2 separate regions of the Homo sapiens genome follow, and region 1 is linked to region 2. The links come from fine-mapping of genetic effects on gene expression. A gene starts in region 2. The other region holds a variant in brackets. All regions are shown on one strand. Distances are from middle to middle.

Evidence for each region. PIP is the estimated chance that this variant, and not a neighbour inherited with it, causes the effect.
Region 1: its variant is fine-mapped to the expression of RP9 in whole blood (INTERVAL, PIP above 0.99).

What each region holds. Positions count from the first base shown.
Region 1 is chr7:33,368,285-33,373,284 of GRCh38, reverse strand. All of the region lies in intron 17 of BBS9 (Bardet-Biedl syndrome 9), which reads right to left. Among named protein-coding and RNA genes, the nearest start is that of BBS9, 240 kb to the right of the region's middle. The variant T/C (reference allele first, on the strand shown) is at 2,314.
Region 2 is chr7:33,106,636-33,112,167 of GRCh38, reverse strand. RP9 (RP9 pre-mRNA splicing factor) reads left to right here and starts at 2,764. Exons shown (of 6, transcript NM_203288.2): 1 at 2,764-2,947. The coding sequence starts at 2,796. RefSeq lists silencers at 2,389-2,868, 2,879-3,108.

The DNA.
Region 1 (5,000 bases), 260 kb before region 2:
TGATGAAAAGCTAAATGCCATCTTGATTCATATCTTGAGTAACTTGTTTTTTTTCTTTCTAATCTTTAAGAATACGCTCCTCAGTGCTCTAAAATTCCACAATGCTTTGTCTGAGAGGGAGAGAGAAAGAGAGAGTGTGCGTGTACTTTCTCATTCATTGTGCTAAGCATCAAAACAATACAAAAGATCAACAAAACAAAGAGCTGGTTTTTTGAAAAGATAAAGAAAATTGAACAAACCTTTGGACTAAAAAAAAAGAAGGAAGACTCAAATAAAAGAAAAAGTAGAAATTACATCTGATACTACAGAAATACAAGGAATCATTAAACTGTTATGAACAACTATATGCCAACAAACTGGATAACTTACAAGAAATGATAAATTCCTGGATACATAAACCTACCAAGATTGAACTAGGAAGAAATAGAAAATCTGAACAGAGCAATAACGAGTAAGAAGATTGAATCAGTTATACAAAGTCTCCTACCAAAGAAAAGCCCAGGACTTGAGGGCTTCACTGCTGAATTCCATCAAACATTTAAAGAAGAACTAATAACAATTCTACTCAAACTATTCCAAAATATCAAAGAGAATGGAATACTTTCAAATTTCAATCTATGAGGCCAACATTATCCTGATAACAAAATCAGATAAGGACATAACAAAAGAAGAAAACTACAGGCCAGTATCCCTGATGAACAAAGATGCAAAAATCCTCAACAAAATACTAGCAAACCAAATTCAACACAGCACATTAAAAAGATCATTCACCATGATCAAGTGGGATTGATTCCAGGGATGCAAGGATGGTTTAACATAAGCAAATCAATAAGCATGATACATCATATTAACAGAATGAAGGGCAAAAACCATATGATCATTTCAATAGATGCAGAAAAAGCATTTGACAAATTCAACATCCTTTCATGATTTTAAAAAAACTCAATAAATTAGGTACACAAGGAATGTACCTCAATACAAACAGGCCTTTTCAATATCCACAACTGTGATACCTCATTTTCTTGAAATCTTTGTCCCCATTGGTCTTCTCTCCACTTTAGCAATCCAGTCCCCCAGTGATGAGCTTGCCATTATCAGAATCTGCAATCTCTCTGAACTCTTGTTCTCAATATCTGATCCATTCTCTGACCACTACCTTTTTTTTCCCTTTTATTTTTTAACCTAGTTCACTTGCTCTATAACTCCTACTACTTTACTTCCTCAAACTTTCAAGAATTTTGATCAGGTGAACCCATTAATTTTTCACCATGTATCAGTTTTCTCTAATCGTCACCGATTTCCTTACCATCTCAGATTTGGTAGTCCATTATGATAATCAGTCTCATTAAAAACATTTTATCTGTAATTCTGTTTTAAAATCTGAGCCCTGTTTTTAGTTGCTTAGATGCTGATAAACAAATCACTTCCAGGGAAAATCACCTAAAAAGGATGGCTGGTTTCAATTCAAAATGTAGGATCTCAAACTCTAGATGGAAATTCCACAATGCCTATTTCCCTCATGAGTTTGCTTTCTTATTTTCTCACTATTTTTTTTCAGATTTATACATTATCAAAGCTCCTTTATCTCTCCACTAACAAATCTACAAAGTCTCCCTAGGTGTACATACGATCCCTCCTGTTACAGAGAAGTTACAAAGGCCTATTCCTCAAACCCTCCCGCAAGCTTCTGCATCCCATCCCCTCTCTCTTCTTCACGGACTTATGATCCACTTCTCTTTCCTGATCATCAACCTCTCCCACTGAACTCAATCATTTAAATTAATGTTCAAACATGTTCTAATATTGCTCATTTAAAAACAAAATACACACCTCCTTCATCCTACATCTCAATTCTGAGTTACTGAAATTGGTTGCTCAATCCTTATTGAAAACACTAGATACTGAAAACTTGCAAAACTAGATACTCAAAATTTATCCTTGGATCAGGCTGCAGCTTAGACCACACTGATTTGGGCTCAGGGAGAATTATATTTAATAAATGGAGTTTTATCATTATTTTCTAAAGTTCTGTGAAATTTGTTTCTCATAATTACTTAAGCATAATCTTTATAATTATATAAACTATAGAGATATTATTAAAGGAACTGTCTTTTTGAATATTCATAAGCGAAATTTCATCTTTGACTCAGCATCAGTAAAGGGTGTGCATCTCCTCAACAAAAGGTTTAATATTTTGAACACTCTGAAAATGGAAACAAAATGATTTCTTATTATTTTAGGTGACTAGCACCTTTTTGATCATACAGTATGTATTTCTGAGTATTAATCTTATTTCTACCTTTATTAGTTTCC[T/C]GCTCTGATTTTCTCTTTCTGATTTCTTGAAATACTTATTTTCTCTTTTCATATTTTGGATACTTTTAAACTCTTCTAAATTCTTTAAGAAGCAAGTAGAACAAGGCAATGTACAAATAGAGACAAAAGATAAAAACAGAACCAGAGAGAGGCAAGACCAAGAAAAGTACAGAAACAGAAAGGGGCAGGAGAGACTGGGGAGAGAGAGCTAGCAGTGTTTGTTGTATATGGTAATAAGTCACTATGTGGATCTGGACCTTAGGAAAGCAGCGTAAGAATATACACGTATTTACATAATAGCATATTTTTCTGAAATCCCATTATACTGAATCACTCGAAATTATAGACATCCACGCAGAAATATTTTGCAATATTAATTATAAAAACATTTGATCTCACAAAAGTAGAACTTTCCCGTTATTTTTAATTTAGGACTGTGATAACAGTTTTCAGAAATGTTGCTAGCATATTTTTCCCAAATTTAAGCACTACTTTTTTTTTTGAGACAGGGTCTCACTCTGTTGCGCAGGTTGGAGTGCAGTAGTGCAATCTCAGCTCACTGCAGCCTCAACCTCCTGGGCTTAAGTGATCCTCCCACCTCAGCTTCCAGAATAGCTGGGACTACATTCATGTGCCACCACAACTGGCTAATTTTTCTTTTCTTTTTTTTTTTTTAAATAGGGACTAGGTCTCACTATGTTGCCCAGGCTGGTCTTGAACTGCTAGGCTTAAGCGATCCTCCCACCTTGGCCTCCCAAAGTGTTGGGATTAAAGGGGTAAGCTGCTACACCCAGCTACTATTCTGCTTTCTAAAAATATAATCCTACTCAGTTCCCCAGGGAATTTGGTTTGGTGTCTGAGACAATGAGCTACACCTTACTTTTCTCTTGTTTGCTTTGACTGGTCTATACTGAATCAGAAAAAGGAACTAAAATCGCCATACAGCATACATGAAGGCTTGGTTGATTACCAAGCAGGTTTTAAAAAGAGATGAATACACGGAACCCACAGAAAATACTATCCAAGAGTCAAGGACAATTCTATGTGACTTATGAATCATTTGACTGTTTACTATGGAAGAAATACTAGGTTCTTTCATTTGTAGGATTTTTCTGTAAAGCAGATTGCTGGACTACAATTAATACTAGGTACCTTTCAAAAAATGAAAAATGTCAAACACAGATTGGGTACAAATTACTTCATTCCTTTCTTAGGAATGAATACTCTGATAAAGCAGTAGGAGCACCAACATCTGCCTCAATCTCAGAAAAGTACACTCTCCTTATACCTATCTCTCTCCATCACCATAGGCATCTCCTAGGTAGGATTCTGTGTGTCACTGTAGCCAAAAACCATCATAGAATTGTAATGACTATTATTCAGGTTTCAATTTACACAGTTTATTTGGCTCCTTGTTTAAAAGGTCCTGTCCTATTCCATTATTTGATTTTGTGTACCTACACTATGCTAAGTCAGGGAATTGCCATACATTCAGACAAAGAGAATAAATCAGATATATAATTGATTTTTGGTAAAATTTAGATAGCAGTAAGGTAATCGTGGGCAACATCAGGGTTCTACTTGTTACTTTATATTAAAAGTTATAAATAAAATACATTAGGATATAAATATATTCATTTGCAAAAATTTTTGCCTTTTTTAATGGTCTCATTTGCAGATTCATTATATGGCACCATCAACTGCAGTCAAACAAATGTGTACAATTTCCCAAAGAAATGTTGGCATAACTTTTTTAGTTTAACCAAGGATAACTGTTAAACTAAGAGAAATGCACCAAAATGGTTCTACCATCCAACTGGAGATTAAAGCTAATCAAAGCAAAATGGTGCTATGTACTTACAGTTAGCAATATTGAACTATACATTTGAAATTTTAAGTGGATAGATCTCATGTTAAGTCTTCTTATCAAAATAAAATGATTTGTTTTTTAAAAAATGATGCCAATGTAAAGAATACTGCAATCATGACCAATCAGAAAAATCATGAAAATAAAGAATCTCCTCTTTCTTCTCAGAGTTGTTATTTCTGTGACCTATTATTGAGTCTTCAATAGTATCTGAGTCTATTTTACCAGTCACCAATTGACATATTCCAGAAACTATTATGATTTTAGCCATAAAAACATTGTTACAGTTTCTAAATGGGATGTCTGTTCCTCCTGCTAATACTTTTCTTTTTCAAAAACAGATGGCCTTATTGTACTCTTATTATTAGAAAAGCAATAACCAACTACAACTGCAAATGCATGGGTAGAAAGTGAAAGCTCACCAGAAAAACTAGAGTTTTTTTTTTAATTGGAATGTCCTGAGCCAGACTATTTCAAGGGGGTATGGGTGTGTGTGTGTGTGTGTGTGTGTGTGTGTGTGTGTGTGTACTTTTTTCTCTCAATACAGATTCGTTAAATACTTCCTTTCTTAATATCTTACTTTATTCCCATGAAGGTGTGTATAACTCAGTAAGCTCAGTAGCTTCAGTATACTACATATGTCAAGAGCTAGTTTTACATTGACTAGTTTCGACTATTATTCTCGCATACATAAAGCAACCAAATCAATAAAGCATATTTAAATTCAAACTTGACTATATAGTTACTACACCTTTCTGCCTACTGAAATTACACTCAGCAAAAGCTATCCACTTTCACTGTCATCTTTGCCAATGTCCAA
Region 2 (5,532 bases):
CACTTCAATAATAAAGAAATGTACTATCTCCCAGAATGAGAAGTATGGATAGGTAGCAACACCAGGACTGGTTGATCAAATGTCTCTATCACATCCCCAAGGACCCAGGGGTCTCCTTCTGTCCTCTGCCATCCTCTGGGGGTTGCAGGCAACAACATCTGGAGGCAGAAAGGGGATCTTTGACACTCCCAAGCATCATTTATTAAGAGCAAAGACAACCTTACCCTGAAAGCCACCTCCATCCGACCTCTCCTCATACCTCATTGGCTAAAATTGCACCACAGGTCCATTGCTAAAACAATCAGTGGAAACGAGAACAAAATTACTAATGACTGGCTTAAGACAAGTCAAGACTCACCTCTAGAGAGGCATGAAGAGGCCTCCACTCTCTAACCAGCTTCCTGTATGATTCCTGAACAAAATCAAAGCTGGTAGCAAGGAAGAGAAGGAGAAATGTCAACTCAGTTGCCAAATATTTGCCCCAGAATACCAATTAAGTTTGGTGTCTGACCTTCCTCCCTCAGTCTTTCGTACCTGCAAGCCTAAAGTAAAGCACGTTGCAATTTTCCCTCCGATCCTACTGGTTAGCAACTATTGATGGATAGAAATAATTTTTCTTTTTTTGAGACAGGGGCTCACTCTGTCACTCAGGCTGGAGTGCAGTGACACGATCATGGCTCACTGTAGCCTCCACCTCCTGGGTTCATGCAATCCTCCCACCTAAGCTCCACAAATACCTAGGACAACAGGCACAAGCCACCATGCCTGGCCCTAGAAGTAATTTTAACAGCTGTTTTTAGTGCATGACCAAAGGGATTCTCATGTTTCTACTGCGCTGCAGAAGACCATAGACATGCACGCCTGAGGGTCCACTTCACCATGAGAGTTCCTTGAAGACTTGTATTTTGGGTAGGAAAAAAAGAAAGATTTTGCATTGTACTCTCTAATCTAGCCATGTGATCTTTCCCTTCTCCTACTTTTTTCCTCTCCTCATCTCCCCAGTGGGGAAAGGTCACTGGTAAGATAAGAGCTTGTAAAAATACACCTTAGCAGCAAAACAATGGTGTCAAGATTACACTGTGAAGGGTGATCAATACAAGCAGGAGAAAATCTATTCTTTTTTTAGTTGCTCCATTCTGAAAGGTTTAAAACCTGTCCAGTAGCACAGACTAAGGACCAACTGCAGCTGCCCCACCAGTGGGCCAACACCAAGGCTGCTTGACTGGCCTCAAGAATGAATCTCTGGTGTCTTAGGAGGGGGCAGAAGAATAAAATGAAAAACAGAGGGGTTCATGGACAGGAGGGTACAACAGAAAGAAAGCACAAAGAGAAGTCAGAGAATATCAAATCACAAAATAATTTCATAGTCAGGTGCAGTGATTCCCACCTGTAATCCCAGTGTTTTGGGAGGCTATGGCAGGAGGATTGCTTGAGGCCAGGAGTTCAAGGCCAGCCTAAGCAGCATAGCGAGACCCCGTCTCTACAAAATAAAAAACTTTAAAAAGTTAAAAAGAATTTTGGAAAGAGCAGTATCACATAGAAAATTAATGAGACTGTATCATCGAGGAGAGCCATGTCCTAAAAGAAAAAAAAAAAAGCTATTCATCATGATGCAAGACTTCAAAATATGTTAATCATCATAAAAGTTGGGCAGTTCATGTGGACAATCGCCATGCAATTGCCCATAATCTATCCCTGCAATACACTTTTTCTATGTTGAATTTTCTTTTTAGTTTGCTTTCGTTTTTCTATTTTCTCTTTTAGCTTTTTCATTATTGTAAATTGTCAGCATTATGTTTTACAATTCACTATGCTATGTATTACATCTTAACATCATTTCTAATACTGGAGGCATCAACTATATAAAGACTTTTAGAGAGTTCAAATTTGTTTTATGCATTTTTTGCAAATATGACTCAATCAAAGCTCATTATTACAATGGTGACTGTGTAAGCATTCTACATATATGCAAAAATGTAGAAATTTCCTCGATAAATAAATAAGTGTCTTTTCTGTACATCTGCATTTGTGAAAGATGAAATTTCTCAGGATCTTGGCTCCTCGGGTGACTGGCACAGTGGTGACGTCATGGTGACCCATCCTGTCAAAAGAGTTAGGTTGTCTCTCATGGTATATCAGATGACCGCAGTTATAAAGCTGGGTGCACACTATTACCGAACATAATTATATGTTTATACATTTCACTTTTTGAACACTTTTTTTTTTTTTTTTCTGAGAGACAATCTCGCTTTTTCGCCCAGACTGGAGTGCAGGGGCACCATCTCGGCTCACTGCAACCTCTGCCTCCTGGGTTCAAGCAATTCTCCTGCCTCAGCCACCCAAGTAGCTGGGACTACTGGCGCCCGCCACCACGCCTGGCTAATTTGAACATTTTTTTATGAATACATTTCATCTGCTCATCCCTATGTGACTGTTGCTAGTATACCTGAGGTGGGTGTGGCCGGGCGGGAACCTCCAGGCTCCCAACTAGCGCCTCGCCCCGCTTCGGCTCCAGCTAGGCGGCGCTCCCCACCCACCCGCAGCAGCCCGCCTGGCGGCTGGGCCCGAGACCCGGAGCCCCTGACTTGGGGCCCGACGCGGGGAGGCGGGGATCGGGTGGCCGAGGCTGAGACTTCGGGGCCGCCGGGGTGAGTTGCGGGGCGGCGGCGGGAGGGGGCGCTGCGAAGCCCCGCGACCGCCGCGCGGAGGAAGTGCTCTCTTGGCTGCCGCCGCCGCCGCCGCCGCCGCCGGAGCCGCGCCGCGGGGGTTGCCCGAGCGGCGCTGCGGGGGCTGACATGTCGTCCCGGCCTGGGCGCGAGGACGTGGGGGCTGCGGGCGCGCGGCGGCCGCGTGAGCCGCCGGAGCAGGAGCTGCAGCGACGTCGGGAGCAGAAGCGGCGGCGACACGACGCGCAGCAGCTGCAGCAGCTCAAGCACCTGGAGTCCTTGTGAGTCCCGAGCTGCCGTCCGCGCGCGGCCAGTCTTCTGAAGCCAGGGGCCCGGGGCGCGGGACGCCGCGGTGGGCGCTAGGCCGGGTCCTCCGAGCCCCCGCGAGCAGGCAGGGGGGCTGGGCCCGGCAGGAGCCTGGTGCGGGCGACCGATGTCGGGCGCCGCGGTCAAGGACTTGAAGTCCATCCTCCTGGCGGGGCGTTCAGGGAGCCAACTGCCGCTCGGCACCAAGCAGAATCTGACTTGGGAGGCCCTGCGCTTCCCTAGCTCCAGGGGGTTCCAGGAGAGTCCAAATGACCCGGGAGAGTGTGGTGTAAAGAAGATTCAAATGTAGGGGAAGGAAATATGGTTTCCCTCTACCCTTCTAAGTTCTTAAGCTGGGCCACAAATTAAATTGTCATAAGACAGATTAACAGGAGAAAAACTTTTAATTATGTACCCGTGCACTAGAGGGCCACAAAAGTGGGAGACAAAGAAGGGCCAGGGAATAGGGGCGTGGGCCTTTTGGGGCGTGGTGGAGACCTTTTGGAAGGGTGATGGGGGAAATGTATGGTGAATAAAGGTTGCTTTGTTATCCCGATGAGGCGCTCAGGCGATAAAAGTTGCCCCCAAGCAGCTGTCTTCCTGATACAGATACATTTACTACAGAAAATTTCCTTTATAGGTGTAAATTTCTGTTTACAACAGGCGAGTCGAAAAATAATAAGAACAAAAGGAAAAAAAGCAGTCATACTTTATTTTAGGCAGTTGAGGGGTAGCTGAATAAGTTATCCTGTGTTGTTTGGTTCTGTTACTTATAGCTCAAAGTCATCAATATGCCAGGGTGGCATGTTTGGGGATGGTGCATTCTTGTCTTTTGCAGTCATTTATCAGGGTGGCGTTTCCTAAATTCTAACACAGACCTCGAGTGGAAAGTTCAGGCAGCAACTCTTTCAGTTCTTGTCCGTGATTCTATAATTAGCTGCATAAAACAACCTTTTCTAAGTGTGGCATTCACTCAGTTATTCAAGAATTCGTTTCTGTTTTAGCCACTTCTAGTTACCTGTGCTAAGTAGGTGTTAAGTATAGCCTAACGCTGCCTCCTTGAATATTTTAAGTTTAGCCTAAAAGTTTCTCTGTACTTAGTGAACTGTAACCTAAGTAGATGTGTAAACAGACTGTAACCTACTGTTATAAGTACCTGAGTCTCAGACAATCACAGCAGCTGATTTTCAGGCCGTCACAGGTGGTCAGCCTTTGAAACCCTGTTCAAAGAAGGCAAACGCCAGGCTGTATGGAATCCAGCTATTTCTCTACCTCATTTGCTTTTCTGTACATCACTTTCCTTTTCCTGTCCATAAATGTTATCCCACCAGGTGGCAGCCTGAGAATTGCTCTGGACCTATTCTGGTTATGGGGGTGCCCTCTTTGAAAACAGTTCTTTGCTCAAGTAGAGTTTAATTTGTCTACTTTTAAAAAACATAATTCATATAAGAAAAGTTCCTCAAAGAATTAAAATCCTTTTTATAATTAACCTTCTGGGAGGTTTGATGTGAGATAAATTCCTATGTTGGGACCTGGCCTGCTCTTTTTCCAGTGTGGCCCGCTCTGAACGACTTTTCCCCTTAGCAGGGCAGGGGATGCAGGATAGAGACCCTGCATTGTGGGCATCCATGTTACAGGGCAGTCCTGGCCCTTTCAAGTCACTGTGTGGCGCTCTTGGTCTCCCAGGGAAGTCAGGTGTTCAAAGATCTTCCCCTAGCGTAAGCATCAGAATGCCTGGCCCTGCCCAGCCCTCAATATATTTAGCTATAGAATGCTAGAGGATGGTTAATTCCACTTATTTGTAGCTCAGAGAGCTTTTTCACAGATGAGAGAGATTATAACCTACTTTTACAGATGAAAAAATGGAGGAACAGTGGTTAAGTCATGTGATCAAGCATACATTGACCAGTTAGTTAACCAGCAAATCTAGAGCTGAACCCAGGTGTCTGATTGACTGGTGGGATTTTTCCAGTTTCTGAGATTTAAAACTGAATGAGCCGTTGAGACATTTGCTTTGGCCAGTTCAGAATCTTGTTTGAGCTTTAAATTGTATTTATACCACAGTAATATGTAGTTTTAAAATTCAAATAGTACTAAAAGTGCTACCAAAAAATAGCAATAGGCTGCCCAACTCCTCAGTAACCACTCATATTCCCTGTGTCCCTCTTCCCCCTCCCAAACCAGGCTTCTCTGTGTAAACTTTTAGGTTTTACTTCTGGGATTTAACTGTTTGGTTTTTGTTTTTTTTTTTTGAGATGGAGTCTCGCTCTGTCACCCAGGCTGGAGTGCAGTGGTGCAATCTTGGCTCACTGCAGCCTCCACTTCCTGGGTTCAAGCGATTCTCCTGTCTCTGCCTCCCAAGTACCTGGGACTACAGGTGTGCATCACCATGCCCAGCTAATTTTTATATTTTTAGTAGAGATGGGGCTTCACCATGTTGGCCAGGATGGTCTCGATCTCTTGACATAGTGGTCTGCCCACCTCAGCCTCCCAAAGTGCTGGGATTATAGGCGTGAGCCGCTGCGCCCACCAACTGTATATTCCTAAATTGTATATTTAT